Homo sapiens: one gene and its partner. The protein of the gene in region 2 interacts with the protein of the main gene of each other region in a pairwise test. Each region holds a gene or a part of one and is shown on either strand. Other genes may lie near its edges.

What was found.
Region 1: the proteins of PAX6 (region 2) and CIB3 interact in binary tests that used the Homo sapiens proteins (3 or more experiments, as listed by UniProt).

The regions. Positions count from the first base shown.
Region 1 is NC_000019.10:16,163,526-16,167,025, forward strand, and holds part of CIB3 (calcium and integrin-binding family member 3), read right to left. Parts: intron 1,389-3,500; coding exon 1,193-1,388; intron 1-1,192. UniProt on the Homo sapiens protein: Acts a an auxiliary subunit of the sensory mechanoelectrical transduction (MET) channel in hair cells. Plays a role in regulating hair cell MET channel localization and function.
Region 2 is NC_000011.10:31,797,823-31,801,322, forward strand, and holds part of PAX6 (paired box protein Pax-6), read right to left. Parts: exon of another isoform or gene 3,408-3,500; intron 3,035-3,407; coding exon 2,869-3,034; intron 2,840-2,868; exon of another isoform or gene 2,717-2,839; intron 1-2,716. UniProt on the Homo sapiens protein: Transcription factor with important functions in the development of the eye, nose, central nervous system and pancreas. Required for the differentiation of pancreatic islet alpha cells.

The DNA.
Region 1 (3,500 bases), on a different chromosome or scaffold from region 2:
GCCTGGGCAACAGAGCAAGACTCCGTCTCAAAACAAACAAACAAACAAAAAGAAACATCACTGTGTACCCCATGAATATGTACAATCATTATTTGTCAATTCAAAAAATAAAAAATAAAGTGAAATTTAAAAATTATAAGATAATAATAGCAACAGCAATTTATTAAACACCTATTGTGTGCCAGGAGCTGTGCTGAATTTTCTCCATATATTAATTTGGGGTTCAGCAAACCTTTTTCTGTAAATGGCCAAATAGTTGATGTTTTCAACTTTATACCATGACGCAACTCTGTTGTTGAAGCACACAAGCAGCCATAGACAAAATGTACACAAATGGGTGTGGCTGTGAGCCAATACAACTTTACTGATGGACACAGAAAAGTGAATTTCGTATCACTGTCACGTGTCATGGAATAATCTTTTTTTAAATTAAAAAAAAATTTTTAATGTGTTTATTTATTTTTGAGACAGAATCTCACTCTGTGACCCAGGCTGGAGTGCATGGCACAATCTGAGCTCACTGCGGCCTTGACCTCCTGGGCTCAAGCAATCCTCCCGCCTCAGCCTCCCAAGTAGCTGGGACTACAGGCATGCACCACCATACCTGGCTATTTATTTATTTATTTATTTGTAGATATGGACTCTCCTTATGTTCCCCAGTTTGGTCTCAAGCTCCTGGGGTCAAGAGATCCTCCCCACTTAGCCTCCCAAAGTGCTGGGATTAAAGGCATGAACCACCCCACCTGGTTGGAATATTATTATTCTTTGATTGTTTTTTGATCTTTTGAAAATATAAAAGCCATTCTTAGCTCACAGGAGGTACAAAACCAGGCTTTGGGTCAGACTGGCCTATTGGCCGTACTTTGCCCTGCAGTGGCGGCTGATTTTCCCCAAAGGCTGCCAAGTACAGTTACACAGTCTGTTCACTGCAAACTGTTCAGGCAACAAGGGCTGAAGTCCAGCCACATTCTGCTTGCTGAAAGAGGTGTATCCACTCGCAAGAGGTGCCCAGGGGGTCCCTAATTATCCCCATTTTACAGATGCAGGGACTGAGACTAGGGAAATTGAGAAAGTTTCCCAAGGTCATGAAAGAATGAATAGAGGAATTTTCAGAAACAGAGTCTGTGAACTGTCTGCGTAAGAGCCCCTTCAGATGTGCAAATGGACTGTGGGCGGTGACGGAGAGCATCACCTGAGGAAGTCTGGTGCCCGGAGGATCATGTTCTGGAAATCTTCCAGGGACAGCCGCCCATCATGGTCTCCATCAGCCTCATCCAGCACCTTCTCACATACCAGGCTCACCTCCTCGGCACTCAGCCCCCCCCGCGTCAGTTTGGTCACCGTCTGCTCCAGGTCCCACGCACAAATGTAGTCGTCGTTGTTAAAATCTGCAGAGCAGGATGGATGGGGAGTGACAGCAGGTGGCAGGAGGGCTAGGCCGGCTGTGGGCACATACTGTGCCCATGTTACAAGAAGGGGAAACTAAGGTCGGGCACGGTGGCTCACGCCTGTAATCCCAACACTTTGGGAGGCTGAGGAGGGTGGAACACCTGAGGTCAGGAGTTCGAGACCAGCCTGGCCAACATGGTGAAATCCCATCTCTACTAAAAATACAAAAATACCCAGGTGTGGTGGCATGCACCTGTAATCCCAGCTATTCAGGAGGCTGAGGCAGGAGAATCACTTGAGCCCGGGAGGTGGAGGTTGCAGTGAGCCAAGATCTCACCACTGCACTCCAGCCTGGGCAGCAAGACAGAAACTCCGTCCAAAAAAAAAAAAAAAAAAAAGGAACTGAGGCCCTGGGAGGGCACCCGAGACCCTGGTGTAAAATCTGGAACTTGCCTTAAAATTGGGCAGGGACCTGCTGGGAGTTCATTCATTCATTCAACAAGTATTTATGCAATGAATTTTTCATTCGTTCTTTTTTTTTTTCTTTGAGACGGAGTCTCGCTCTGTCGCCCAGGCTGGAGTGCAGTGGCACGATCTCGGCTCACTGCAACCTCCACCTCCTGGGTTCAAGTGATTCTCCTGCCTCAGCCTCCCAAGTAGCTGGGATTACAGGTGCCTGCCACCATGCCCGGCTAATTTTTGTGTTTTTAGTAGAGATGGGATTCCCCATGTTGGCCAGGCTGGTCTCAAATTCCTGACCTCAGGTGATCCACCCACCTCGGTCTCCCAAAGTGCTAGGATTACAGGTGGAAGCCACCACACCCAACCTCATTCATTCATTTTTACAAGCATTGAGTGCCTGCTGTGTGCTAGGCACTGTAATAACTTTTTTATTCACTCATACAAGTATTTATTGAGCATCTACTATGTGTCAGGCATCACAGTAACTGATTTTCATTCACTCACTCACTCAACAAGTATTTATTGAGTGCAATTTTCATTCATTCACTCACTTAACAAGTATTTATTGAGTGCCTACTGTGTCCTGGCACTGTGATAATAATTTTTCATTTACTCATTCAAAAAACAGTTATGGGCCCGGCGCAGTGGCTCATGCCTGTAATCCCAGCACTTTGGGAGGTGGAGATGGGTAGATCACCTAAGGTCAGGAGTTCCAGGCCAGCCTGGCCAACATGGTGAAACCCCATCTCTACTAAAATTACAAAAATTAGCGGGGCGTGGTGCGGGTGCCTGTAATCCCAGCTACTAGGTAGGCTGAGGCAGGAGAATCGCTTGAACCCAGGGAGTGGAAGTTGCAGTGATCTGAGATCGCGCCATTGCACTCCAGCCTGGGCGACAAGAGTGAGACGCTGTCTCAGTAAAAAAATAAATAAATAAAAATAGTTATTGAGTGCCTACTATGTGCCAAACACTGTGACAGCTCTTTCATTCATTTATTCAAGTATTTCTTGAACACGTACTACGTATCAAGCACCATGATATCTGTTTTTCATTTATTCACTCACTCAACAAGTATTTATTGAGTGCCTACTGTGTAGTGGGCACTGTGATAACTTTTTTCATCTATTCACTCAAAAAGTACTTTTTAACTGCTTACTGTGCACCAGGCACTGTAATAACTTTTTCATTTATTCATTCATTCATTCATCCATTCAGGAAGTATTTATTGAGCACCTACTACATGTTGGGCACCATAACTCTTTTATTCACTCACTCAACAAGTATTAGTGTCTACTGTGTGCCAGGTACTCTGATAACTTTTTCATTCATTCATTCATGCAACAAGTATTTATTGAGCACCTACTATGTGTTGGGCACCATGATAACTATTTTTCATGTACTCACTCAAAAAGTATTATGGTGGCAGGGCACGGTGGCTCATGCCTGTAATCCTGCCACTTTGGGAAGCCGAGGTGGGTGGATCACTTGAGGTTAGGAGTTCAAGACCAGCCTGGCCAACATGGTGAAACCCCATCTTTACTAAAAATACAAAAATTTGGCTGGGCGTGGTGGTTCATGCCTGTAATCCCAGCACTTTGGGAGGCTGAGGCGGGTGGATCACCTGAGGTCAGGAGTTCGAGACCAGTCTG
Region 2 (3,500 bases):
TTCAAAAGGCGCCCCCTCGGAGCCGCGCAAAGCAGGGGCCTTCAGTGGGTGCCGTTCACCTTCCAGCCTAATCCGTGAGAAAGCGAGTGAAAGCGCCTCCCATTATCCCAGCCCCAGGACCATCTGACGATGGGAATAGGATTTGTTTCCTGGAAGGAGGTGAGAGAGAGAGAGAGAGAGAGAGACAGAGAGAGAGTTGCTGGGAAATAAAATCATTCCTTAGTTTCTTAGTGTCTTAATCAGTGAGGCGGAAAACAAGCAAGAAAAGATAGCAACCCGGTTGCGGCACCTTTTCAGCTCTGGAGCGCGGATCAAAACATTGTAGCATCTGTTGAAAGAGAGGCTGACTAAATCCTATAGAGGGCTTGGGTATTATGGGGGGTGGGGGTGGGGTGAGGGGAGGAGATAAGAAAAAGTGTCTCCGTGATCCCTAAAACCACCAAATCGCCGGAGAATTGGGGCTGGATAGAGTTGTCTCTTGTTGTTGTCAGCCCACGTCGTCGCGATTTTATTCACCGCCGCATGGCGTTGATCAGATGGAAACCATATTTGTCTCCCTCTGAGACCTAACCCCCGCCTTATGCTTTTGGAGTATGGACTCTTTAAAACCCAAGAAAGGCTTCCTGGGCTGGGAAAGGGGGCTAGGGAGGGAGGGGGACCCTCTTAGCACCAAAAAGTCTGAGGATTCCCCGGGAACGTGAAGCGAAGCTCACCACCGGTGCCCGCTACCCCCACGCCGGCAACTCTGTGCTTCGTTTGGCCCACGTGTCCTCCCCACGCAACTAGGGGCGACGGTCCTGTGCCTGAGGTGACAATCACCCCCCAAAAACCTCACTTGCGGGTGGGGGGGTGGTGATTGCCAGTTGACCCAGAATTTTCTAGCAACTAGGCGCGTTAAAGTGAAAAGCCCCTGGACTAGCTCCACCTCCGGCCCCAACCATCACAGGCGGACCCTAGCTGATTTGACTCTCACTTCCCGCCCTCAGACTGCCGGCGACGAAAATCCGCCCGAATCGGGCGCCACCTCTGGTGGAAGCTGCTGTCCTCGGCTTCTGCCCAACTCCAAGAAGCGGAAGGGGGGTGTATCCTGCGCCCCAAGCTCATGGGAGCCCACGCACCGGGGAGAGCCCGGAGTGGAGGCTCTGGGCTCAGCCCTCCCAGGCCTAGGCCACCGTGCCCTGAGTCCCTCCCCAAGACTTCTCGGACTAAGTGGGCCAGACTCTTGTCAGGGGAGGGATCACCAGGACCTCAGATTGCTGGGGGCGGAGGGGTGGACGCTCGTGAGTGCGAAGTTCGGGTGTCACTTGGGTGTGTCCAGTGTCTACAAGTGGGAATCCTACGGTTTCAAAAGTCAGGCAGGGATGGGGTTGCCTACACTCGGTGGGGTCAATCGCTAGTCTCACCAGAGGCGGGAGCGGGCCTGGGGGCCCTCTGAGCTCGCGGAGGCGGCGGGTTCGGGGCCCGTGCGGGCGGGGTCGCCCAGGGGAGCCCGGGCCCCGCGCGTCAGGAGGCCTCCGCCGGCCGAGCGGCCGCGCTGGGAAACAAGAAGCGAGCGCTTTGCTCCCTATCTTCCCAGTGTCCGTCCTATATTGTTTTCTGCTCTTAAAACTGACATGTCTAATTGGCAATTGGTGCCGAATCGTGTCCAGAGGTCTCTTGTGGAACATTTCTACAGCTGTCTCCTTCAACTAGACGCTTATTCATGTCGCCTTAATGAGAAACAAAACGTTCTCTAATGAGCAATTACAGAGCGACAGGATTGTTCCCATAACAAATTCTTGCGAGTGACAGAAGCATCCTTTGTACCAGATATTTCGCATACTGTTACCGATTTTCCCTTCCCTCGCCCGACTCCATGGAGGCGCCGGGCATCCGGAGCCGGTCCGAGAGCTCACGGATGCGCCGGCAGCCTCCTCGCAGTCCCGCGCGCCGCCCCTGGCCCCGAGCCCCTCGGCTCCGTTGTGCTCCTGGGAGTGAGACGCCACGTCCCATTATCCCGCATATTATCTCCTTGTCACGAGGACAACAAATACCGATTAATCTTCGGAGTAAACTGTTTCCTATTCTTGACCAAGCTACCTCGGGGTGTGGAGGGGAGCGGAGGGGAGCCAACTGACCCTCCCCTCCGCCCCACCCCCCCCATCCCCCGCTCTTCTTCCTCCAGCCCTTCTCACAGAACCTGGGGTGTTTCAGGTCCCATCTCTCCTCCCAGACCAGAGCGGCTCCCGGCATCCCGCCGTCCTGCTCACAGTATCTTCACCTCACCACTTCCACATAGTCGCCACCCACAGAGAGTGAGAAAGTGGGACCCAGAGGGGCGAACGGGGGAGGGGCAAGGATAGTGGGGTGGTTTTAGTTGGGAGACCACCACTTCCAATGCCCCATCCCCGACTCGCCCTGCATCTCCCTGCTCACCTTTTCATGTGCACCCTACTCATAGTCACATAATTTGTCAATTACAGCAAAAAGCAACAGGATACAATTATGTTAACCTCGCAGTCTGTCAGTGCGTTATCTTGTCACACTTCTACAAGGGGGCTCTCCCTGCATTCTAATGTCAAATTTGAATAGTGCACCACGCAGCTCGTTCTTATGCACACAGTGCTGCCCACAAACACACACACGCACCCACCAGCCACCTTCATACCGCTCCTGACATACACAACCCTCACATTCCCAGGCCAACAAAATGGTTCAACAAACACCACCTACATACAATGTGGTCGATGTGTCCCAGGCCTTCAAATGCAGTCTCACCCATGACATTCCCCAAGCATGGAAGCCCTGAGAGGAAATGGTTGGGAGAGTAGGGGACAGGCAAAGGGATGCACATATGGAGAGCTGCGTGGATGGCTGCTTGGGTTTTACCTTGCGTAGGTTGCCCTGGCACCGAAGTCCCCGGATACCAACCAGGGCGGGTGCCCCAGCTTCCGGTCTGCCCGTTCAACATCCTTAGTTTATCATACATGCCGTCTGCGCCCATCTGTTGCTTTTCGCTAGCCAGGTTGCGAAGAACTCTGTTTATTGATGACACCTGCAAATCAAACCAAAATCAAACCAAATGGTAGTGTCTCCTGAAGACACAGTCACCCATCTCAGCTCACCCACAACCTTAAAAAGCAACTCTCAACCCGTTAAAAAGCTCCCAGCCACCCCGGGACAGTGGGTGGATTTGCAGATACACCGTGGAAAAAATGATAGCTATCACTTTGGGCATGGAAATTTAGTTGGATAGAGAATTGGGCGGAGGGGGTCCTTCACCATTGCTTGGTGTCTCTGGTGACCTAACTCACACGGTTGCTTTGCTTTGTTAAAAGACTGCCCGAAAATAAAAACTATTTAGACTTGTTGTAAAGCTTTCTTTCATTATATTGTTTAATATTAGGATGGAAATGGATGTGTGACACCTGAAGGAAAGTTCTGGCAGGTGGATTAGGACGAAGTTACAATCTGGTTCTCATTTTCCTTCTTCATTCAAGTGCCTTTCCCTGGTGCCTCCG